7 linked regions of the Homo sapiens genome follow. The protein of the gene in region 4 purifies or fractionates together with the protein of the main gene of each other region. This does not show direct contact. Each region holds a gene or a part of one and is shown on either strand. Other genes may lie near its edges. The genes, in order: MAP3K14, HNRNPR, UPF2, EXOSC10, AICDA, EXOSC1 and CTNNA1.

Evidence for each region.
Region 1: the proteins of EXOSC10 (region 4) and MAP3K14 purify together in Homo sapiens (tandem affinity purification; one large-scale study listed by IntAct). This does not show direct contact.
Region 2: the proteins of EXOSC10 (region 4) and HNRNPR fractionate together in Homo sapiens (co-fractionation; one large-scale study listed by BioGRID). This does not show direct contact.
Region 3: the proteins of EXOSC10 (region 4) and UPF2 purify together in Homo sapiens (affinity purification with western blotting; 2 studies listed by BioGRID, with this or other methods). This does not show direct contact.
Region 5: the proteins of EXOSC10 (region 4) and AICDA purify together in Homo sapiens (affinity purification with western blotting; 2 studies listed by BioGRID, with this or other methods). This does not show direct contact.
Region 6: the proteins of EXOSC10 (region 4) and EXOSC1 purify together in Homo sapiens (co-immunoprecipitation; 9 studies listed by BioGRID and IntAct, with this or other methods). This does not show direct contact.
Region 7: the proteins of EXOSC10 (region 4) and CTNNA1 purify together in Homo sapiens (co-immunoprecipitation; one large-scale study listed by IntAct). This does not show direct contact.

What each region holds. Positions count from the first base shown.
Region 1 is NC_000017.11:45,307,021-45,310,520, forward strand, and holds part of MAP3K14 (mitogen-activated protein kinase kinase kinase 14), read right to left. Parts: intron 1-3,500.
Region 2 is NC_000001.11:23,316,785-23,320,284, forward strand, and holds part of HNRNPR (heterogeneous nuclear ribonucleoprotein R), read right to left. Parts: intron 1,914-3,500; coding exon of another isoform or gene 1,905-1,913; coding exon 1,699-1,904; intron 1-1,698. UniProt on the Homo sapiens protein: Component of ribonucleosomes, which are complexes of at least 20 other different heterogeneous nuclear ribonucleoproteins (hnRNP). hnRNP play an important role in processing of precursor mRNA in the nucleus.
Region 3 is NC_000010.11:11,952,310-11,955,809, reverse strand, and holds part of UPF2 (regulator of nonsense transcripts 2), read left to right. Parts: intron 1-302; coding exon 303-578; intron 579-3,500. UniProt on the Homo sapiens protein: Involved in nonsense-mediated decay (NMD) of mRNAs containing premature stop codons by associating with the nuclear exon junction complex (EJC).
Region 4 is NC_000001.11:11,089,870-11,093,369, forward strand, and holds part of EXOSC10 (exosome complex component 10), read right to left. Parts: intron 1,729-3,500; coding exon 1,624-1,728; intron 1,311-1,623; coding exon 1,145-1,310; intron 800-1,144; coding exon 685-799; intron 1-684. UniProt on the Homo sapiens protein: Catalytic component of the RNA exosome complex which has 3'->5' exoribonuclease activity and participates in a multitude of cellular RNA processing and degradation events.
Region 5 is NC_000012.12:8,610,060-8,614,141, reverse strand, and holds the start of AICDA (single-stranded DNA cytosine deaminase), read left to right. Parts: upstream 1-1,282; 5' UTR 1,283-1,374; coding exon 1,375-1,382; intron 1,383-4,082. UniProt on the Homo sapiens protein: Single-stranded DNA-specific cytidine deaminase. Involved in somatic hypermutation (SHM), gene conversion, and class-switch recombination (CSR) in B-lymphocytes by deaminating C to U during transcription of Ig-variable (V) and Ig-switch (S) region DNA.
Region 6 is NC_000010.11:97,439,507-97,443,006, forward strand, and holds part of EXOSC1 (exosome complex component CSL4), read right to left. Parts: intron 1,754-3,500; coding exon 1,665-1,753; intron 1-1,664. UniProt on the Homo sapiens protein: Non-catalytic component of the RNA exosome complex which has 3'->5' exoribonuclease activity and participates in a multitude of cellular RNA processing and degradation events.
Region 7 is NC_000005.10:138,756,425-138,759,924, reverse strand, and holds part of CTNNA1 (catenin alpha-1), read right to left. Parts: intron 1-3,500. UniProt on the Homo sapiens protein: Associates with the cytoplasmic domain of a variety of cadherins. The association of catenins to cadherins produces a complex which is linked to the actin filament network, and which seems to be of primary importance for cadherins cell-adhesion properties.

The sequences.
Region 1 (3,500 bases), on a different chromosome or scaffold from region 4:
GCCCAGGCGGGCGGACTGCCTGAGGTTGTGAGATCGAGACCAGCCTGGCCAACATGGCAAAACGCTGCCTCCACTAGAAATACAAAAATTAGCTGGGTGTGGTGGTGGGTGCCTGTAATCCCAGCTACTCGGGAGGCTGAGGCACAAGAATCGCTTGAACCCGGGAGGTGGAGGTTGCAGTGAGCCGAGATTGTGCCACTGCACTCCAACCTAGGCAACAGAGTGAGACTCTGTCTCAAAAAATTAAAAAAAAAAATTAATTAATTAATTAATTAAAAAAATTTCAAGTGTCATCGAAATCAGCAACTTAGGGTATTTTGTGTAACTGAATATTCTGATTAAGTGGGGGCTGCCCTGTATGCCACTTAACATGACCAATTTCCAAAGATTAGATGGCCATAATTGCCCTTGACACTAAAATCATGTGAAACACAGCCAGTTTCTTTGATGACTCAAAACGTACTTTGTGATCTTGCCAAGCTTTGAGATCATCGTTACAAGCAGCATTTTGGTTGTGAAAAACAACTCTCCTTATTTAACCTTTTGGGGTGGATTCTGAGCAAGAAGTTCCCTAGGCTACGGTCAATCTCGCTGAAATACAACCACCCACCGCTCCTTTCTGGGTTTAGAAATCTGGTTTTCAGAGGTGGGAGTGGCTTCAAGCAGCGTCTACCTGTGTTCAGAAAAGATGAAGAAAGACAGGCTCAGGCTCCCTGTATAGGAGAATTCAAGTTCATTGTAGTCACTGGTGACTGGTTCTGAAATTGAGGAACTAGTTTGAGGAACTTCAGAATAAACAAGAAACCCAAAGAACTCAGCTTCCACAGAAGGCTTCCAATGCATGGAAGGAGGCACAGGTCCAGCTCCGCCCTGTGGCGGGGCAACCTTGACCCTGGCCTCATTTCAGATGCTGCCCCACATGCTCTTTGACAAGCTGGACCAAGTAACCAGCTTGAGGACATGAGTGGCAGAGGGGTCCCTTTATAATGAGGGGTCATATTCTTGTCCTCCCTTGGGAAGGTAAAAAAGGGCTTGGGACATGGGGCATGATGAGGAATATTCTCAGAGGATCTCACACGATTCTTTGGTAAAAGAGGGTAAATCATGAAACAGCCCACGGCTCTCTCGTCCTCCCCGAGGCCAGCAGGGCTTAGCGGGAGGAGTTTGGATTCAAGTCTTGTACTTTCACTCAACAGCAAATATTTAATCAGTGGCTACCATGTTTCAGGCACCGTGCTGGCCAGCAGGAATATGAGGATGACCAAGAGCCTTCTCTGTTGAAACCCTTGAAAGGCCTTCTTGGAATGCTGAACCCAGTTACCTAGAAGCACTGCCTTGATCTACCTGCCTACAACTCTCTAGTGGCACCAAGCCTATGGGATGTGCCAGTGTGGTCACTGCCCTCCCAATTCTCACTTGGAGGGGTGGGAGGTGGTCAGTTATGTGTTTATTAGCTGGCTACTCACTGTCTGATTCTACTTTGAACTATATTTTCTTTTTTGAGAAGAGGACTTGTTCTGTCACCCAGGCTGGAATGCAGTGGTACAACCATAGCTTACTACAGCCTCGAACTCCTGAGCTCAAGTGATCATCCCACCTCAGCCTCTGAAGTAGCTGGACTACAGGTAAGCACCACCATGCCCAGCTAATCTTTTTTTTTTTTTTTTGACAGAGTCTTGCTCTGTCGCCCAGGCTGGGGTGCAGTGGTGCGATCATGGCTCATTGCAACCTCTGCCTCCCAGGTTCAAGTGATTCTTGTGCCTCAGCCTCCCGAGTAGCTGGGATTACAAGTGCCCACCAACACACCTGGCTAATTTTTGTATTTTTAGTAGAGACGGGTCTCACCATGTTGGCCAGGCTGGTCTTGACCTCCTGGCCTCAAGTGGTCTGCCTGTCTTGGCCTCCCGAAGTGCTGGGATTACAGGTGTGAGCCACTGCGCCTGGCAATGTCCAGCTAGTTTAAAAAAATTTTTTTTTTGGAGGTGGATCTCACTATGTTGTCCAGGCTGGTCTCCAGTTCTTGGCCTAAAAGGCAATCCTCCTGCCTTAGCCTCCCAAGTCATTGGGATTACAGGCATGAGCCACTGTGCCCAAGCAACATTTGAGCAAATTTCTCCTGACTGTCCCTACGCTTCTGAAAATGCACTTCTTTCCCCCAGAGTGCTGAAGTTGCCCAACTGTTACCAAGCTCCCGCTCCAAGCTGACAAGTGGTACAAGACCCCAGGGTGAGAGAAATACCAAGGTGTTCCCACCCAGGCACCTGCAGAATCCGAGACGCTCTACGCCTGACAGTGCTGGCTCAGGCTGGAAAAGGAGGGCCACTGGGCTGCGCATGGTGGCCTCCTCGCTCCCTCCAGCTCCTATAGTCATGGCTCCTGACCAGCACCGGGGTTGACCTGTGAGATGTCTGCCTTCGTGCCCAGCTTACCCCTGTCTTGGTGAGGTCCTCCAGGGCGGTGCCTCAATTGTGTTTGGTTTTCTAGCACCTAGCAGACATGGCCCATTTGACACACTTGGCAAATGTTCCTGAGTGAAAGGACAGACACACTTCTGAGGAATAAATGAGTGCCACAGGCTCTGAGAGCCTGGCTGGACAGGGACACGTGTCCACACTGTCCAATCACCTGGCAGGCTGGAAGGGAGGGAGTCACAACTTGGTGGCTGTATTCTAACTGCACCCCAGCAAGCAGGTGTCCTGAAAGATGGCTGTGGAGCCTCTCCTGCCATCCCCTTTCCTAAATGCTGACCTAGAGACCCAATTACTTCTAATTGCTTGAGAAGATAACCCTTCTGAACTGGACAACACCCATCTGGGCTCGGATTTGCATATATTTGCAAGTATCTAATACATGCTAGAGGGAGGTGGTGCAGGACTCTGTCCTTCACATTGATCTATACAAAGCTATTCCTGCCTCTCCAGGCACAGCATCTGCCAGTGGAGACTGTTGGGCAGGACTCAAGGAGTCTGGTGGGTCCAATCAACTCCCTTGGCCAAAGGAGTCCATCTTTTTTTTTTTTTTTTTTTTTTTTGAGACGGAGTTTCGCTCTTGTCGCCCAGGCTGGAGTGCAATGGTGGATCTTGGCTCACTGCAACCTCCACCTCCCAGGTTCAAGTGATTCTCCTACCCCAGCCTCCCGAGTAGCTGGGATTACAGGCATGTGCCACCATGCCCAGCTAACTTTTTTGTATTTTTAGTAGAGATGGGGTTTCACCATGTTGGCCAGGATGGTCTCAATCTCTTGACCTTGTGATCCGCCCGCCTCAGCCTCCCAAAGCACTGGGATTACAGGCACGAGCCACCGTGCCCAGCCTCCATTTATAATCTTAACTGGCAACCACATCCTCATTGGAGGCTGGCTAAGCCTCCTTTTCCTCCCAACCCTCCTGGCTATCCCTAGTATGGACCAGAAACACCTACCTTTTAATTCTGGCCCAGTAAAAGGAAACTTTAATGTCAGTAGAAGGTGGGTGGTAGATTTTGGCTACAATAATTCTTTG
Region 2 (3,500 bases), about 12 Mb from region 4:
AGCTAGTAAAAAATCAAAATAAAAACTCAGAGCTATTTAAATTCTCTATCCCTTTCCTAGACACCCATCTACTCAAGGAATATGAGATAAAAGATACTGAGTAGCACTTCTGAGAGCCTCTCTGGTTCATTCTGAATAGAACTTATCTGATTAACCCAAAGATGTCACTGCCAACCCAGACTTTATACAAGTATAAACCAGAGTTCTCCTCCAAACTACTTAGAACGAGGGTTTGCCTCCTCAAATTCTGGAATAAAAACCTTGACTTCTGACTTATCAAGAAGAATCCAACCATTAACTCATGGCCATTCAGAGTTGCTGCCTCCCTGTGAAGGGAAGAGACAACTAAAATGCTCAAGAGCTCATTGCAAGCAGCAGAAATGCAACTCTGAGGCCGGGCGCAGTGGCTCACACCTGTAACCCCAGCACTTTGGGAGGCCGAGGCGGGCGGTTCACAGGGTCAGGAGATGGACACCACCCTGGCTAACATGGTGAAACCCCGTCTCTACTAAAAATACAAAAAATTAGCCAGCTGTGGTGGCGGGCACCTGTAGTCCCAGCTACTTGGGAGGCTGAGGCAGGAGAATGGCGTGAACCCAGGAGGCAGAGCTTGCCGTGAGTGGAGATCGCGCCACTGCACTCCAGCCTGGGACAAAGCAAGACTCCATCTCAAAAAAAAAGAAATGCAACTCTGATGTGTCCCAGGAGTCGCCCAAAGGAAAACTTAAGAACCAGTACTCAAGGCACCACTATTAAGATCCTGGCAACGCAAGTACAGGAATCAGGAGGGAATTGAGGGCCCTTTACAGGACTTGCCATGCATATTTTGCCACTAACAAATAAGAGCAAACATGACAATCTTTTGCCTTTCTTCATGGGGACAATACACTAAGGGAATCTGATCATTTAAAAACAAGAGGCGGGGCACGGTGGCTCATGCCTTAATCCCAGCACTTTGGGAGGCCAAGGCGGGTAGATCATGAGCTTAGGAGTTCGAGACCAGCCTGCAATATGGTGAAATGCTGTCTCTACTAAAAATACAAAATTTAGCCGGGCATGGTGGCAGGCGCCTGTAGTCCCAGCTACTTGGGAGGCTGAGGAAGGAGAATCGCTTGAACCTGGGAGGTGGAGGTTGCAGTGAGCCGAGATCGTACCACTGCACTCCAGCCTGGGCAACACAGCAAGACTCTGTCTCAAAAAATAATAATAATAAATAAAATATTTTTAAAAATAAAAACTACAAAAAAAGCTTAAAAAAAGAAAAATTAGCTATAAATCTAAATAAAACATAATTCATGGCCAAGTAATAAAGTCATAATATAGTCAATGAAGATTATAACTTATAATCTCCAAAACATTACTTCTCTCTTTACTCAGGACTTTTAAAAAAAAAAAAAACCTCTATCCCTCACAGTGCCTAGCACTAAACAAACACCCAGTGTGTATGGGACTACTTAATTGAAGGAATTTCATTTCAGTTCCTTTTGCACATTTAATCTGCAGGAAAAGGGATTGTTAATGGAAATTCCTGGATACCAAGACAGGCTGTTAACTTTAGTGTTAAAGCCGCTCCTTGCCAAACAGTTGAAGTCTAAAGCTACAATTTCTATTTATCATAAAACTCAAAATATTTGAGCTTTATTCTGAGTACAAAATTTAAATGATGACCCTATGCCCATTCCAAGCAACTGTATTTACCTTAGCCATGACTTCTGGATCTGGTTCTTCCACAGGGTCAGCCCATTCAACTGTAACTACATTTCCCCACACTTTTACTTTTCCACTCATCAGCCGGCGTCTGGCTTGTGCTGCTGACTTGTGATCCTCATATTCAAGGAAGCAGAACCCCCGATTCTTCTTTTTGTCATCGGGTTGATGATAGAGAATAACGTCCACCAAACCCTCTGTTAAACCAACAGCCAGATATATAAGCCAAAAGCATCCACCACACATCTAGCGATTAGGCAGACCTAAATCCACTTGACGATGAGCAAAATATAAGTGAAGCAGCCTCAACATGAGTCACTAATTTTGTAGACAATTAGATCAACATAATTAGATATGGGGTTTGGGACAGTATTTGATGTTCCTTTTTAATTTTAGGGGTTCTGAAGGTACAGCCATATACAACAAATCTACTATATTCTGACATTTAACATGCTACAATGTTTTAGAGCGTTTGATATAACATGACTTTATTAAAGCACTAACAAGGATCTTAAAAACAAAATTAGTAATATAAACCCAAGAGAACTAACTTTTGACAACTAATCATGGCCAAAAATCTTCCTTGAAGCTAACTTAAAAGTTACTATTTTTACCAAGAATGGAAGTGATCACTAAATATTAGTGTTCCTCTGGTCTTAGTCCTTTGCCCTTATCTCTCCGTATGTGTTCTTTCTAAATAATGTCAGCTAGCCCTACTTTTAAATGTTACCTATACCCTTATAAATACTTAGATTTTTTTCCTACCCCAGACTTCTCTAAGCTCTAGATGTGCCTACGTTCTTACCCGATGTATCCTCTTTGATGTCTTAGACATTGCAAATTTAACTTTTCCAAAACTGAACCACCATGGCCAAAATCTGCCTTCCCTAGACTTCCTATCTAATAAACAGTGCCATCCACCTGGTTCTGAAGCCAGAAATTGGTTAGCCATTCTTGATTTCTTCCTTCATCTCTCCTATCCAATTCCAAACTCATTTACTTCTTTCTATCTCCACTGCTATTACCCTAGTCTAATCCTGTATCTGTACTAGTATGACAGCTTCAACTAATTTATCAGCTTCCACTCACACCCCTTCTCTCCAAGCCCCTATCCACAGAGCGCTAGGAATAATATCCCATAAACAAGAAATAGGTGTTATTTCCTGCTTAAAACCTTTAAATACCTTCTCATTATATATACAATAAAAACCCAACTCCTTACATGGCCTACAGAAGCCCTGCCTACTTCATTTCATACAACTCTACTCCTAATTCTACCTTTTAATAATACTGGCCTCCTCAGTTACTGTAATATACTGACTTCTTTCTTGCCTTGGAACCTTGGCACGTGTTGCTGTCTTGGAATGCACTTCCTTTTGCTCTTTGTATGCTACAACCTCTTCATCCTTCAGGTGCTGGTTGACATGTCATCTTATCAGAAAAGTCTTCCAAAACCATGGAAACAGGGATAGTAGCTATTCTCTAGCTAAATATCCTGTATTTCCTGCTTCAGTGTCTTATCACAATGTCTAAATATTCCTTTAATTTTTATTTTTTATATTCTTGGTCTTATCTCCTTTCTCAGGATATAGGATCTATGAAAGCAGAGAATATGTCTCTTAGCCATCAGTGTATCCCAGGCACATAGCACAATGCCAGCACTTAACAGGAACTTTAATAAACACCTGCTGAAAGAATGAATAAATGATCATGAAGCCAGAAGGAGCTATAGATAATAAAGTGATGAGGTCAAAGAACTGTGCCAGCAGTTGACAACACAATACTTGACAACA
Region 3 (3,500 bases), on a different chromosome or scaffold from region 4:
TGATGGCAGAGAAAATAGGTTAAGGGTAGAATTACATTTTAACTGTTTTAGAAACAATTCATGTAATGATAGCTAAATTTAATACCTAACATGTTCTTTTTATGAAAACACTTTAAAGATAGCCATTTCCTAGAGAGAGAAAAGGACACCTAGAAGTAACCAGTTTATTAGAAAAGATCTGTCATTTCTCTATTCAGTGTTCTTTCAGTAATAGATATTTTCAAGTTACAGAGACAAGTTTAACCTGTTTTCATATACACTACTCCTCTTTAATGAAAATCTGTGGTTTTGTTGCCTTTTAGGTTAATCAACCTAAATTTAATCAGAGGCGCATCAGCAGTGCCAAGTTCTTAGGAGAACTTTACAATTACCGAATGGTGGAATCAGCTGTTATTTTCAGAACTCTGTATTCTTTTACCTCATTTGGTGTTAATCCTGATGGCTCTCCAAGTTCCCTGGACCCACCTGAGCATCTTTTCAGAATTAGACTCGTATGCACTATTCTGGACACATGTGGCCAGTACTTTGACAGAGGTTCCAGTAAACGAAAACTTGATTGTTTCCTTGTATATTTTCAGGTATATAAGCTGAAATATTCAGTTTGGCATCATTTAACATATTGCATGTGTTTTAAAAGAATACTATGAGAGAAGAAACGTTATGGTATTCATATATTATATATATGTTCATAATTAGATTATATTCTTCATATAAGAATGCTTTTGGAAATTTAAAGATATATGATGGATTCTATTGTATGAACATTCTCATTGCATATAACTTTTATGATTGATAATGATTGGTCATTAATTTTGGGAGTTGTTTTCATACAGTTTATAAATTTGGTTCAGTAATTTATGGACCGTGATATTTAATACAGTAATTTATTGATTAAATTACTTGTGATTTGTAATACATTTGTTAATGTTCTCTTCTCACTCATGTATATTCTGGTTTACATCTCAAATTCTTGTTTCTTTCTTTTTTTTTTTTTTAAATAGAAATGGGGTCTTGCTATGTTGGCCAGGTTGGTCTTGCACTCCTAGCCTCAAGTAAACCTCCCGCGTCAGCCTCCCAAAGTGTTAGGATTACAGGCATGAACCATCGCGCCCAGCCCAAATTCTTGTTTCTAAAAGATATATATATGTATATATATATATATATATTTTTTTTTTTGAGAGTAAGTCTTGCTGTGTCATCCAGGCTGGAGTGCAGTGGTGCAATCTCAGCTCACTGCAGCCTCCACCTCTCAGGTTCAAGCAATTCTCCTGCCTCAGCCTCCAGAGTACCTGGGATTACAGGTGTACTCCACCACACCCGGCTAATTTTTGTATTTTTGGTAGAGAGGGGGTTTCACCATGTTGGTTAGGCTGGTCTTGAACTCCTGACCTCAGGTGATCTGCCCACCTCGGCCTCCCAACGTTCTGGGATTAACAGGCGTGAGTCACTGTGCCCAGCCTAATTTTTTTTTAAAAAAAGAAAACCTATCATTTTTGAGGAAAATGTGTTATTTTTAATACAGTAAGAATATTTGTTCATTTATTTGTAAATTCTTGGGTTGTGTTTTCCATATCTTAATGTTGGGTTATTATATAAACTTGTGATTTAGACCAAGCACAATATAAATTAAATTCATATACAAATACAGGGACAGTACTACAACCTCTATAAAGTTTGTATTTCAGAGGTTAACTTATAGGTTGATTAGTTGGAGCCCAATTACTATTTCCCATAAAATACAATTTTCTAAGTGCCAATTAGGGTGAACAACTCACTATCAAGTGCTTTAAGTTTTACTAAGTGGTGATAGTACCATTCGATTCTATATAATCACAATTGTTAGTATTTTCATTTACCCATTATGAAGAAAATAAGTTTAATGTAACTTGAAGTATCAAAAATACATCCACATGGTGGCGTGTGTTAAGTTGGGGGTAAATATTCTTCGGGAATTGCGGTCTGTTAGCTTGCTCCTACCGCTATTCTTTTGCAGTAGAGGGAAACCTATTACTCCCTTACTTTCTGAATTGATGAGCAAAAAGTGGGGAAAAGGACTTGCAGATTTGAGGGTTGCAGTCCCTGTTGTATGTAAGGACCATCTTAAGTTGGATACTGTATTAAAAGCCAGAGTTTTGCTGCAAAATGGCAGCTATAACAGCATCCAAAGTAGAATCTCTCTCAGAAGAGAATCCTTTCGATTCACTCTGACATCTTAGGCTGAGAGAAAAGAAACACTCAGAAATATTCAGGAGCCAAAAGAGACAAAAATATTTTCCAAACTGATTAACAGACAAAAATGTGTAACAGAGCCATACCTAGGAATTGGAGTCAGAAGTGAGTGAGGCCTGGGTGATGAGGTCTGTGTGTTTCACCCAGAACATGGAGTGTACAGTTTAGTATTAGAAGGTCAGGAAGAAAGGATCCCCTGGAGCAGTGCTTTTAAACTTTCCTGTGCATCCATGTCCCCTGGGGACTTTGTAAAGATGCAGATTCTGATTCAGTTGACCTAGGGGGAGGCCTGAGATTCTACATTTCTAAGAAGCTCCCAGATGAGGTCCACACTTGGAGTAGCAAGGACCTGGAACAAACTGGAGAGGAAGAGTAAAACTCCCAGAGGAATACCTGTTCATATACTAGTAAATTCTTGGGTTGTGCTTTCAGTTAATGTAAATTTAGGAATTAAAACAAGTATAAAATAGAATGTGGGAACCAGGCTTGGAGTAGAGAGGGAAAATATCCACACCATGCCATATACACAGTAGATATTCAATAAATGCTTGTTGATGATTAGTGATTTTTATATATTTCAAAAACCGTATTTTCAGATACTTTAACTCTTCAAAAATCAAAGCAAGTAGCACAGAGAAAATAATGAACATTATCACAACGATGGCTTTGAATTTGGTTAAATTTGTAAAATTAAATATAGGAAATCAGTGCCTTGTTTTGGAGTACCTAAAAATTTATTTGGTATTTTATTTATAATATTTCCTTGCCTTAAAAAAACTGTGACAGTTATAATAAAAAGATATCTAGGGCCGGGCGCAGTGGCTCACACCTGTAATCCCAGCACTTTGGGAGGCCAAGGCGGGCGGATCACGAGGTCAGGAGATTGAGAACATCCTGGCTAACACAGTGAAACCCCGTCTCCACTAAAAATATTAAAAAGTAGCCGGGCGTGGTGGCATGCACCTGTAGTCCCAGCTGCTCGGGAGGCTGAGGCAGGAGAATGGCGTGAACCTGGGAGGCGGAGCTTGCAGTGAGCTGAGATGGCGCCACTGCACTCCAGACTGGGTGACAGAGCGAGACTCCATCTCAAAAAAAAAAAAAAAAAAAAAAAGATATTTAGTAAATTCACCAAATAGCTCAAGACCTGTATAGACAGAGGGAAATGATTGGAATAGGATCATTGCTGTTGACCATTAATAGAAATGGTAAGTGTCTTTTATAACCTTTCAGCTTAGTAGTTATAACTGGGAAACAGCACAATATAGTTTATT
Region 4 (3,500 bases):
GGAGGTAAAGGCTGTAGTGAGCTGTGTTCATGCCACCACACTCCAGTCTGGGCGACAGAGCAAGACCCTGTCTCAAAGAAGTTCCAACTCTACAAGAAGCCTGCATCTCTAATTTTGCTTTTACATCTTTTTTTTTTTTTTTTTTTGAGATGGAGTCTTACTCTATCACTCAGGCTGGAGTGCAGTGACGCCATCTTGGCTCACTGCAACCTCCACCTCCCAAGTTCAAGCGATTCTCCTGCCTCAGCCTCCCGAGTAGCTGGGATTACAGGCACACACCACCTCGCCTGGCTAATTTTTGTATTTTCAGTAGAGATGGGGTTTCACCATGTTGGCCAGGCTGGTCTCGAACTCCTGACCTCAGGTGATCCACCGGTCTCAGCCTCCCAAAGTGCTGGGATTACAGGCGTAAGCCACCGCGCCCAGCCTTCGTGTTTTACATCTATAAAATGGGAATAAGAGCAACTGCTACTTCTCAGGACTGCAGTGAGGTTTACATGAGGCAATGCTGTGTAGGCCCTTTGTGAACACAAACAGCAGGTTTTATTGCTAAGGCCCAGGTTGGGGTGTAAGGAGGAAATCACTACTCCTCAGATTGTTTTCATGTATATACTCCACAAAAGTGAAAATGTGGCAAAAAGGTAAGTACTCACGGCAGAAAGTCAGACACAGGCCAACACTTACATGTCTTGCTCAACCTGCTGGGTTCTCTGCTGATGGATGAAATCAGCCAGTGCAGGGGGGACGTCCAAGTCCTCAGGACGATCCTGTGGGCGTTCCCGCCTTTCCTTAGAGAGAGCTGGGGATCCCAGCAGTGACAAAAACATCATTAGCACATTCATGTCTTTTCTAATTACACAGGGGTAAACTGGTTCCCTTTGTTTTTTGGCTTTTTTTTTTGAGACAGGGTCATGTTCTGTCCCCCAGGCTGAAGTGTGGTGGCACAAGCACAGCTCACTGTAGCCTTGACCTCCTGGGCTCAAGTGATCCTCCCACTTCAGCCTCTGGAATAGCTGAACTGGGCTCCCTTTGAACAAAGGAGGGTGGGCTCCCTTTGAACAAAGAAGAGAGACCTGTACACCCTTCCTGGTTTTTGCATCAAATAAAGTGAGACTCAAACACAGGCAAAGTATGCACTATTTACCTTGAGGGAGAGGTTTCTGAGCATTGGGTTTGATGAAGATTTTAGGAAGAAATGGTGTGTTGGAATTGTCAATCTTCTCTCGAAACTTGAGCTGAGGTCGGATGATATTTTTTGCATGAAGCAGCCGGAAAGTTTCAGATTTTGCTTTTTTGCCATATTCTGCTGCCTATGATCAATGAATACAAATACTTTATAACACAGCAACTTGATGAATTAGAAAAGTAAATTCCAATTTATGACTTCTGAGGAGACAAGAACATCGCAAAGGTCATTCATTCATTTAAGAATGTATGTGCATGTAGAGGTCTCCAGAAAGAGAAGAAGAGGGTGTAATTAGTTTGTGTATGTTTATGAGAACAAACTAAAGGAGACAGTGGCCAGTTCTCTAATAAATTAGAACAGAAATGCATGTTAGAATGAGCAAAATCTCTGTTATGAAGCTGACATCAAGAGCTCTAGTTAATCTGAAAAGCCCTCACCTTACGGTTCCAGCTGGACACTACCGTTTTGGGGACCTGCAAGCCGGCAGGGAGGACAGGCTGTTGATTCTTGTTTACACCTGAGGCTTCATCCAGTAAAATACCCTAAGAGTAGAAGAGGTACTGGTTAAGCATTTTTCCTTTTGAGGTTAGCAGAGTTAACTACCTAACATTTTATTTATTTAACATGGAGTATCACTCTGTCACCCAGGCTGGAGTGCAGTGGCGCAATCTTGCCTCACTGCAACTCTTTACAGTTCTGAATTGGGCTCACTGCAACCTCTGCCTCCAGGGTTCAAGCGATTCTCCTGCCTCAGCCTCCCGAGTAGCTGGGATTACAGGTGTGCACCACCATACCTGGCTAATTTTTTATTTTTAGTAGAGATGGGGTTTCACCCGGTTGGCCAGGCTGGTCTCGAACTCCTGACCTCAAGTGATCCGCCCACCTGAGCCTCCCAAAATGCTGGGATTATAGGCGTGAGCCACCGTGCCCCACCTAATTACCTAACATTTTAAAGAGATTGGTATTCAGAGACATTTGTGTAAGAAAATATACATATATAAGAACAGATCAATGTATGTATCAAAACATCAAGTTGTATGTAATAAATATATAGATGGTCCCCAATGTATGACAGTTTGACTTGTAAGTTTTTGAGTTTACAATGATGTGAAAGTGATTTGCATTTAGTAGAATCCATATTTCAAGTACACTTACCACCTGTTTTTCTTTTTTCTTTTTTGAGACAGAGTCTTGCTCTGTTGCCAGGCTGAAGTGTAATGGCGTGATCTCAGCTAATTGCAACCTGCCTCCCGGGTTCAAGCGATTCTCCTGCCTCAGCCTCCCAAGTAATTGGGACTACAGGCATGCACCACCACGCCCAGCTAATTTTTGTATTTTTAGTAGAGACAGGGTTTCACCAGGTTGGCCAGGATGGTCTCGATCTCTTGACCTTGTGAGCTGCCTGCCTCGACCTCCCAAAGTGCTAGGATTACAGGCGTAAGCCACTGTGCCTGGCCCTGTTTTTCTTTTTTTTTTTTTTGAGAGGGAGTCTCACTCTGTTGCCCAGGCTGGAGTGCAGTGGTCCAATCTCAGCTTGCTGCAGTCTTCGCCTCCTGGGTTCAAGCAATTCTCATGCCTCAGCCTCCCGAGTATCTGGGACTACAGGTGCACGCCACCACGCCCAGCTAATTTTTGTATTTTTTAGTAGAGATGGGGTTTCACTATGTTGACCAAGCTGGTCTTGAACTCTTGACCTCAAGTGATCCACCTGCCTTGGCCTCCCAAAATGCTAGGATTACAGGCATGAGCTACTGTGCCCGGCCACAACCTGTTTTTCACTTTCAGAAGTGTATTCAATGCTACTTGAATTACATGAGATGAATATTCAACACTGTATTATAAAAATAGGCTTTGTGTAAGATTTTGCCCAACTGTAGACTAATGGAAGTTTTCTGAGCACATTTAAAGCAGGTTCAGTTAAGCTATTTGGTAAGTGAGGTGTATTAAATGCATTTTTGACTTATAATATAGGTTTATTGAGACATAACCATGTAAATGATCGCCTATACAATTTTTGTCAATAAAAAAATAAAAATTTTACAAAGTTGATCAATAAAGGTCATTAGTATGTCATGCCAAGTAATTAATGCATTATTTGCTCAAAGGCAGGTAGGACAGTAATTACCCATGCCCAATACTCGATTGACTCTTTAAAGCTCTGAATTGGGCTGAAAATTCTAATATGATTTAACAGTGTAATGTGGCCACTAAAATAACTAAGAAGTCCCTGGACTGCATACATTAAATATAGAAGTACACTATTTAGAATGAAACTGCAGGGAGTCCTCATCTATTTTGCACTTTAAAGCAGACG
Region 5 (4,082 bases), on a different chromosome or scaffold from region 4:
ACCCAGTGGGAGGTAGTTGAACAATGGGGGTGGGTCTTTCCCATGCTGTTCTCATGATAGTGAATAAGTCTCACAAGATCTGATGGTTTTATAAAGGGATTTCCCCCTGCGTGAGCTCTCTCTTGCCTACCACCATGTAAGATGTCCCTTGCTCTTCTGCCATGATTGTGAGGCCTCCCCAGCCATGTGGAACTGTGAGTCAACTAAACCTCTTTCCTTTATAAATTACCCAGTCTCAGGCATGTCTTTATTAGCAGTGTGAGAACAGACGAATACATGGTCCAAGCTAGGGCTATTGATTTGAAAATCATCAAGGTATAGATGGTATCAAAGGCTTGAGGCAGGAAGAGAGCAGAGACCCTAGCTGCATTGCTTAGCATTGCATCCCTAGCACCTGGCATAGTTTCCATTAACAGTAGGCATGAAGTATCTACTCAGTGAATAAATAGAATGCATATGGGCTACAGTAGGAGAGAGAAATAAAATCTTTAATAGACCAAGTTCTATGAGAGCACAAAATTAAAGTCTTTTATTTGAAGATCTTAGCCTGTTTTCCAAATTCAGTGCAGCCAGTTAGACACTGAATCTGTCTGGTGAAACAAGCATTTTTGTATTTTGGGGGACTGCTGCTGCTTCTGACTCCAAATTAAGGATTTTTTTTTTTTCTAAAAAAGATGGCTCATGCAAAAATCACTCTTTGGTGTAAATATCTAGTCTTCAAGCAATTCTTGTAATGCAATCAGAAAGAAAAAAATCCATGGTTTGGGAGGCAAAATTTTTGTGTTCTAAATTCTATATAACTGAGTTCATTTGCTTAACTGCAAAGCAGGAGCTGCTAGTGCCTGTCTGTACTGAGGTTCAGAGAGACTGTGGGAATATGGGGGAATTAGAGGCTATCTGAGGCTCTTCAACACAATAACCCAAGAAGCTATTTAAATGCTCTTTAAGGTATTTACATAAATATTACTATTCTCATTGTGCTTTTATTTTGTGTTATCATGATTATAATTGAAGTGTCTACTGTTACTGCCTCCTGATCTTTGCTAGCTATGGAGCATGGACTGGGCTTTTAGAGCAGCAGCCCCAAAGGAACCTAAACATTAAAGCAGAGCTGCCCTCAATGGTTTAACCTGTGTGACTCTGCCTATGACAGCCCCACCCACCCATCTTCACTGGATCCAAATCAGGAGCAAGGCCGTTGGGGTACCTGGTGGGGGTGATGCTGTCAGGGGAGGAGCCCAAAAGGGCAAGCTCAAATTTGAATGTGAAGGGCCAATGCACTGTCAGACTAAGACAGAGAACCATCATTAATTGAAGTGAGATTTTTCTGGCCTGAGACTTGCAGGGAGGCAAGAAGACACTCTGGACACCACTATGGACAGGTAAAGAGGCAGTCTTCTCGTGGGTGATTGCACTGGCCTTCCTCTCAGAGCAAATCTGAGTAATGAGACTGGTAGCTATCCCTTTCTCTCATGTAACTGTCTGACTGATAAGATCAGCTTGATCAATATGCATATATATTTTTTGATCTGTCTCCTTTTCTTCTATTCAGATCTTATACGCTGTCAGCCCAATTCTTTCTGTTTCAGACTTCTCTTGATTTCCCTCTTTTTCATGTGGCAAAAGAAGTAGTGCGTACAATGTACTGATTCGTCCTGAGATTTGTACCATGGTTGAAACTAATTTATGGTAATAATATTAACATAGCAAATCTTTAGAGACTCAAATCATGAAAAGGTAATAGCAGTACTGTACTAAAAACGGTAGTGCTAATTTTCGTAATAATTTTGTAAATATTCAACAGTAAAACAACTTGAAGACACACTTTCCTAGGGAGGCGTTACTGAAATAATTTAGCTATAGTAAGAAAATTTGTAATTTTAGAAATGCCAAGCATTCTAAATTAATTGCTTGAAAGTCACTATGATTGTGTCCATTATAAGGAGACAAATTCATTCAAGCAAGTTATTTAATGTTAAAGGCCCAATTGTTAGGCAGTTAATGGCACTTTTACTATTAACTAATCTTTCCATTTGTTCAGACGTAGCTTAACTTACCTCTTAGGTGTGAATTTGGTTAAGGTCCTCATAATGTCTTTATGTGCAGTTTTTGATAGGTTATTGTCATAGAACTTATTCTATTCCTACATTTATGATTACTATGGATGTATGAGAATAACACCTAATCCTTATACTTTACCTCAATTTAACTCCTTTATAAAGAACTTACATTACAGAATAAAGATTTTTTAAAAATATATTTTTTTGTAGAGACAGGGTCTTAGCCCAGCCGAGGCTGGTCTCTAAGTCCTGGCCCAAGCGATCCTCCTGCCTGGGCCTCCTAAAGTGCTGGAATTATAGACATGAGCCATCACATCCAATATACAGAATAAAGATTTTTAATGGAGGATTTAATGTTCTTCAGAAAATTTTCTTGAGGTCAGACAATGTCAAATGTCTCCTCAGTTTACACTGAGATTTTGAAAACAAGTCTGAGCTATAGGTCCTTGTGAAGGGTCCATTGGAAATACTTGTTCAAAGTAAAATGGAAAGCAAAGGTAAAATCAGCAGTTGAAATTCAGAGAAAGACAGAAAAGGAGAAAAGATGAAATTCAACAGGACAGAAGGGAAATATATTATCATTAAGGAGGACAGTATCTGTAGAGCTCATTAGTGATGGCAAAATGACTTGGTCAGGATTATTTTTAACCCGCTTGTTTCTGGTTTGCACGGCTGGGGATGCAGCTAGGGTTCTGCCTCAGGGAGCACAGCTGTCCAGAGCAGCTGTCAGCCTGCAAGCCTGAAACACTCCCTCGGTAAAGTCCTTCCTACTCAGGACAGAAATGACGAGAACAGGGAGCTGGAAACAGGCCCCTAACCAGAGAAGGGAAGTAATGGATCAACAAAGTTAACTAGCAGGTCAGGATCACGCAATTCATTTCACTCTGACTGGTAACATGTGACAGAAACAGTGTAGGCTTATTGTATTTTCATGTAGAGTAGGACCCAAAAATCCACCCAAAGTCCTTTATCTATGCCACATCCTTCTTATCTATACTTCCAGGACACTTTTTCTTCCTTATGATAAGGCTCTCTCTCTCTCCACACACACACACACACACACACACACACACACACACACACACACAAACACACACCCCGCCAACCAAGGTGCATGTAAAAAGATGTAGATTCCTCTGCCTTTCTCATCTACACAGCCCAGGAGGGTAAGTTAATATAAGAGGGATTTATTGGTAAGAGATGATGCTTAATCTGTTTAACACTGGGCCTCAAAGAGAGAATTTCTTTTCTTCTGTACTTATTAAGCACCTATTATGTGTTGAGCTTATATATACAAAGGGTTATTATATGCTAATATAGTAATAGTAATGGTGGTTGGTACTATGGTAATTACCATAAAAATTATTATCCTTTTAAAATAAAGCTAATTATTATTGGATCTTTTTTAGTATTCATTTTATGTTTTTTATGTTTTTGATTTTTTAAAAGACAATCTCACCCTGTTACCCAGGCTGGAGTGCAGTGGTGCAATCATAGCTTTCTGCAGTCTTGAACTCCTGGGCTCAAGCAATCCTCCTGCCTTGGCCTCCCAAAGTGTTGGGATACAGTCATGAGCCACTGCATCTGGCCTAGGATCCATTTAGATTAAAATATGCATTTTAAATTTTAAAATAATATGGCTAATTTTTACCTTATGTAATGTGTATACTGGCAATAAATCTAGTTTGCTGCCTAAAGTTTAAAGTGCTTTCCAGTAAGCTTCATGTACGTGAGGGGAGACATTTAAAGTGAAACAGACAGCCAGGTGTGGTGGCTCACGCCTGTAATCCCAGCACTCTGGGAGGCTGAGGTGGGTGGATCGCTTGAGCCCTGGAGTTCAAGACCAGCCTGAGCAACATGGCAAAACGCTGTTTCTATAACAAAAATTAGCCGGGCATGGTGGCATGTGCCTGTGGTCCCAGCTACTAGGGGGCTGAGGCAGGAGAATCGTTGGAGCCCAGGAGGTCAAGGCTGCACTGAGCAGTGCTTGCGCCACTGCACTCCAGCCTGGGTGACAGGACC
Region 6 (3,500 bases), on a different chromosome or scaffold from region 4:
CTAATGCCTGATGATCTGTCACTGTCTCCCATCACCCCCAGATGGGACCATCGAATTGCAGGGAAACAAACTCAGGGCTCCCGCTGATTCTATATTATGGTGAGCTGTATAATTATTTCATTATATATTACAGTGTAATAATAACAGAAATAAAGTGCACCATAAATGTAATGCACTTGAATCATTCTGCAACCACCCCCTCCATGGTCTGTGGAAAAACTGTCTTCCAAGAAACTGGTCCCTGGTGCCAAAAAGGTTGGGGACTGCTGCACTACAGAACCACATCAAATCCTGAGGCTGGAAAGGGCCTCAAAAGTTAGATTATCTGCCTGGCAAGAAATGTTTGTCCTTTCTCAAGGAAGCCACACGAAATCACCATCTCACCCACAAATCTTTTCAATGTTTTATAACCTCTGAGTTCAATCTATATTAAATTTTAAAGTGCTTCCTAAAATGCCTTCTACTTTTTTTTTTTTTTTTTTTGAGACGGAGTTTCACTCTTGTTGCCCAGGCTGGAGTACAATGGCACGATCTTGGCTCACCGCAAGCTCCGCCTCCCAGGTTCAAGTGATTCTCCTGCCTCAGCCTCCCTAGTAGCTGGGATTATAGGCATGTGCCACCACGCCTGGCTAATTTTGTATTTTTAGTAGAGACGGTGTTTCTCCATGTTGGTCAGGCTGGTCTCGAACTCCCGACCTCAGGTGATCCGCCCGCCTCGGCCTCCCAAAGTGCTGGGATTACAGGCATGAGCCACCACGCCCAGCCTGCCTTCTACTTTGGTTTGAGTCATCCTGACACTGCTAAACTTCAGCTTCACTCAATTCTTTTTGCTTTACCTTTTATTTATTTATTTGTTTTTTGAGACAGGGTCTCACTCTGTTGCCCAGGCTAGAGTGCAGTGGTGCAATCTCAGCTCACTGCAACCTCTGCCTCCTAGGCTCAAGTGATCTTCCTGCTTCAGCTCCACAAGTAGCTGGGAGTACAGGCACGCACCACCATGCCCAGCTAATTTTTTTTTTTTTTTTTTTTAAAGACAGAGTCTCGCTCTGTCCCCCAGGCTGGAGTGCAATGGCGCAATCTTGGCTCACTGCAACCTCTGCCTCCTGGGTTCAAGCGATTCTTTGGCTTCAGCCTCCTGAGCAGCTGGGATTACAGGCACACGCCAACATGTCCGGCTAGTTTTTGTATTTTTAGTAGAGACAGGGTTTCACCACACTGGCCAGGCTGGTCTCAAACCCCTGACTTTGTGATCCACCCACCTCAGCCTCCCAAAGTGATAGGATTACAGGTGTGAGCCACTGTGCCTGGCTAATTTTTGTATTTTTTACAGAGATGGGGTTTCACCATGTTGGCTAGGCTGGTCTCAAACTCCTGATCTCAAGAGATCCACCCGCCTCAGCTTCTCAAAGTGCTAGGATAACAGGCGTGAGCCACCGCGCCCAGCCTTTGCTTTACTTTTAAACCCTCTCGTTAATATTTTCCTTTTGTCCTAGATCATCCATGTATTTTTTGGATACTACTAGGGGAGAATCAAAGCACAAAGAAGAAAGAAAAACGGGCAAAAGAAAAATAGGAATTGTAACTGTTGCTCAAAATTCTGGTGTCCTAGTCTATCCTAATCTTATTCCAGTTGCTAAGGTATATGTGAAAAGGATACTTCTTACCGGATAGTTCCTCGAAAAGAGTTCTTAAGAGGCATGGACCCCACATACAGGATGTGTACTTTGGCAAAGCGTGAATTGATGCTAGAGACCTGCGGAATAGAGAAAAGATCAGCATCAGAGTATAAGCAGTTGTCAGCTCAAGGAGGCAGCAATAAACTGGGGATTACTAGGGCTTCAGTGCAAGCAACCCTACTAAGTAGAGAATTTAAGACAAATTAACTCCTACTTCTCTCTGCGTAAGTGACACATGTAAAGAGGAATAAGAGCCACTCTGGCCACCTGGTAGAGTTACTATGGGAAACAAAGGTGGTATGGGTTTTTTTTTTTTTTTTTTTTTGAGACGGAGTTTCACTCTTGTTGCCCAGGCTGGAGTGCAATGGCGCGATCTTGGCTCACCGCAACCTCCGCCTCCTGGGTTCAAATAATTCTCCTGCCTTAGCCTCCTGAATAGCTGGGATTACAGGCATGCACCACCATGCCCAGCTAATTTTGTATTTCTAGTAGAGACAGGGTTTCTCCATGTTGGTCAGGCTGGTCTCGAACTCCTGATCTCAGGTGATTCGCCTGCTTCAGCCTCCCAAAGTGCTGGGATTACAGGTGTAAGCCACTGCATCCGGCTGGGTTTTTTTTTTTTTTTTTAAATCTTTTCACAACTTGCCCTTCAGAGAGGTATAGACTTTTTAAAGTATAGATGGCTAACAATTAAAAAAAAAAAAAAAAAAGAGGCTGGACACAGTGGCTCATGCCTGTAATCCCAGCACTTTGGGAGGCTGAGGTGGGCGCATCACTTGAGGTCAGGAGTTCAGGACCAGCCTGGCCAACATGGTAAAACCCCACCTGTACTAAAAATACAAAAATTAGCCAGGCGTGGCAGCACATGCCTATAATCCCAGCTACTCGGGAGGCAGAGGCAGTAGAATTGCTTGAACCCAAGAGGCCAGAGGCTGCAGTGAGCCGAGATCGTGCCACTGCACTCCAGCCTGGGTGACAGAGCAAGGCCCTGTCTCAAAAAAAAAAAAACAGGAATGGCAAAAAATAAAGTCTTTTGCTTCTCTGCAGAAAAAGAACTCAGCTTCAGATGTTCAAAAATAGGCCTCCTAATCATCCTCTGGCATCCCTGTTTCCCAGACACAGGTAGAACTATGTATTCAGGGAATCAGCTCAGTGAAGGAACTATGCATGCCTGAACTTGGCTGCCTTGATTATTATCCTAGAAATCTGTAAGCCTGCACAGTCCAGTAAAACTTTCTGTGATGACAGAAAAGTCATGTGCTGACCAGTATAGCAACCACTAGCCACAAGTGGCTATTGAGTACTTGAAATGTGGCTAATGTGACTAAGGAAATCAATTTTATTTTTTTCTTGAGAGACAGAGTCTTGCCCTGTTACCCAAGCTGGAGTGATCATGGCTCACTGCAGCCTCAACCCCCTGGGCCCAAGCGATCTTCCTGCTTCAGCCTCCCAAGTAGTTGGGACCACAAGCATGTGCTACCATGCCTGGCTAATTTTTTATTCTTCTTCTTCTTTTTTTTTGAGACGGAGTCTCACTCTGTTGCCCAGGCTGGACTGCTGTGACGCAGGCTCACTGCAACCTCCACCTCCTGGGTTCAAGCACTTCTCCTGCCTCAGCCTCCCGAGTAGCTGGGATTACAGGCATGCACCACCACGCTAAGCTAATTTTTGTATTTTTGGTAGAGACAGGGTTTCACCATGTTGGCCATGATTGGCCAGGCTGGTCTTGAACTCCTGACCACAGGTGATCTGCCCACCTCGGCCTCCCAAAGTGCTGGGATTACAAGCATGAGCCACCATGCCCGGCAATTTTTGATTCTTTTT
Region 7 (3,500 bases), on a different chromosome or scaffold from region 4:
AAGATCAGTCTCCCCACCTAGACAATTACACTGGCATAATTAGTCAGATGTAATTCTGGGGACTGTTGAAGAAAGCTTGCAACTTCCAAGGAAAGACTGGGACAGTAAATTGGGTTAATTTCAGTCAATTTCAGCCCTTAGCTGAGCAGCAGCTACCCCATTCCCTAGCCCCCAGCCACGGGCAGACAACCTACAATGCATTCCTGAAACAGCTTGCAAGCAGCTTTTGGGAACCAGGATGGGTAATAAGGACCCTGTCCTCCAAATATTAGGGATCCGTATTCTAATTGCTGATTGCTGCTTATAATCAGGGATAGGCAGACACTGAGAAGGATAGCCATTATTGCACCCCCTCCATGACTGCAAGTCCTCCCCCTCCAGCTGAAGTAGACTTCCAGGAAATTTAATGGGCCAAGGGCCCCCACCTCCCTACTTCCTTCATTTTTCTCTTTTTCCTCTTTAGGAGCTAGACTTTAAAGACTAGGATATTCAAAAGCAATCATGAGGGTGCGGGGGAGATAAGGAAAAAAGTTACCATGGTGCATGCGCCCAGGGAAAGGTGCAGGCTCAAAAAAGACCTGAGAAGTCCTTAAGTTTGTATCTCAGGCTGATCCTCAGCATAAAAACAAACTGTAACAAATAAACAAAAAAATCCAGCAAACCCTGGGAATGAGAAGAGTCCAATTTTCAGAGTTAGCACATCATTAGATTCAAATGTCCAGTTTTCAAAAAAAAATTAAAAAGTCCCAGGTCATACAAAGATACAGGAAAGTATGACCCATTAAAAGAAAAAAAAAATTAACCAATAAAAACTGTCCCAGTTGCTGGGCACGGTGGCTCATGCCTGTAATCCCAGTACTTTGGGAAGCCAAGGCTGGCTGATCACCTGAGGTCAGGAGTTCAAGACCAGCCTGACCAACATGGAGAATCCCTGTCTCTACTTAAAATACAAAATTAGCCAGGTGTGGTGGCGCATGCCTGTAATCCCAGCTACTCAAGAGGCTGAGGCAGGAGAATCGCTTAAAGCCAGGAGGCAGTGCAGTGAGCCAAGATCACGCCATTGCACTCCAGTCCGGGCAACGAGAGCAAAACTCCATCTCAAAAAAAAAACAAAAACTGTCCCAGAGAAAGACCAGATGGAAGACCTACTAGACAAAGACATTAAAACAACTGTCTTACAGATGTTCAAAAAACTAAAGGAAGGTATGGGAAAAATCAAGAAAATAATGTATTTTAAAAATAAAAATATCAGCCGGGTGTGGTGGCTCACACCTGTAATCCCAGCACCTTGGGAGGCCGAGGTGGGCAGATCACGAGGTCAAGAGATCAAGACTATCCTGGCCAACATGGTGAAATGCCATCTCTACTAAAAATACAAAAATTAGCTGGGCGTGGTGGCATGTGCCTGTAGTCCAGCTATTTGCGAGGCTGAGGCAGGAGAATCACTTGAACACGGGAGGCAGAGGTTGCAGTGAGCCAAGATCGTGCCACTGCACTCCAGCCTGGTGACAGAGCGAGACTCCGTCTCAACAACAACAACAAACAAACAAAAAAAGTTAGCCGGGTGTGGTGGCAGGCGCCTGCAGTCCCAGCTACTAGGGAGGCTGAGGCAGGAGAACGGCATGAACCCGGGAGGCGGAGGTTGCAGGGAGCCAAGATCGCACCACTGCACTCCAGCCTGGGTGACAGAGCAAGACTCCATCTCAAAAAAAAATAAAAATAAATAAAATAAATAAAATTAAAATACCAGATTAGCCAGGTGTGGTGGCACATGCCTGTAATCCCAGCTACTTGGGAGGCTGAGGCAGAAGAATCACTTGAACCCAGGAGACAGAGGTTGCAGTGAGCCGACATCACGCCATTGCACTCCAGCCTGGGCAACAAGAGCAAAACTCCATCTCAAAAAAAAAAGAAATAGGAGAAAAAAAGAATATATTACACATAAGCTGAGGACTGCATGGAGAGGATTTCATCAGTGATTAGATCTGGGTGGCAAGGAAGAAGAATGGGCTGTAGATGGTTCTCAGTTTGCCCAAATTTGTTATTGGAGGCCCTCCATAATCTGACTGTTGCCTCATCTGTTATCATTCCATCCACAAGCTAGACTCCAGGCAGAAAAGACTTTTTCCTCCTTCACTCAACAAGCATCTAATTTGCCCTCCATGCCAGGTACTAAGCACCAAGACAAGAACTAAGACTCTCAGTTCCTGCCTTCAAGGAGCTTACAAGGCTCCCTTCCTAGCAGTAAAGGCAAACAGGTACATCAATAATAACGTACAGCATAATGTAATGCACCACCCAGTGCTAAAAAATTTGCTACCAGAAACGAAAGTGCTGAGTCTTAAGATATGACTAAAAGCTCATCATGAAAGGTTATGTTGGGAGAGTAGAAGGGAATCACTGAGGAAGCAACTTTACCCTAGGCCCCCAACATCCAGTCCATTTTCTTTTTTTCTGAGTCAGGGTCTCACTGTGTTGCCCAGGCTGGAGTGCAGGGGCATGATCATAGTTCACAGCAGCCTTGAACTGTTTTTAAATACTGTATGCCTCAGCGGCATTACATATATTCACGATCCATTTCCAGAACTTTTTTCATCTTCCCAAACCGAACTCTGTACCCATAACAATAGCTCCCTATTCCCCTTCACCTGGCCCCTAACAACCACCATTCTGTTTTCTTTCTTTCTCCTTCCTTCCTCCCTCCCTTCCTCCCTTTTTTTCTTTTGTTTGAGACAGGGTCTCACTCTGTCACCCAGGCTGCAGTGTGACATGATCAGAGCTCACTGCAACCTCCACCTCCCAAGCTCAAGCAATGAATCCTACCACCTCAGCCTCCTGAGTAGCTGGGACTACAGAGCGTGTCACCATGCCTGGTTGATTTTTTTTTTTTTAGAGGCGGGGTCTCATAAAGTTGCTCAGGCTGGTCTTGAACTCCTAGCTTCAAGTGATCCTCCCAACTCAGCCTCCCAAAAAAACAGGATTATAGGCATGAGCCTCCCTGTCCAGCCCCAATCCATATTTAAGTCCTGTCTCATTTCTCCAAAATACAGCTCCCTTCATCCCTACCACCTCGTACTCCACCATCTTCCTAGCTCAACTCTCTGCTTCCACATGCACACAAACACAAGCCTTCTCCAAGCACTAGCAGGAGTCTTAAAAAGGAAATCAAATCATGAAACTCCCTACAATGGCTTCTTACACCTCTAGAATAAAACCCCAACATGGCCTCTGCCTTCTCTGGCAATCTCATGTGAGGTCTTCTCCCCACTGAAAAAGTACCCAAGCTATACAAGTCTTCTCTCAAGTCTCTAAACACACGGAGTCTTTCCTGTCTCAGGACCTCTACAAATGCAGAGGGCCCTGTTCCTTCTCTCCATATTCTCACCAGCACACAACACTACCCCCAACAATCAGGGCTGTCTGTTATGCCCCACAGTGAGTTACGTTCTCAAAGAAATCCGAAAGTGCGGTGGCTCACACCTGTAATCCCAGCACTTTAG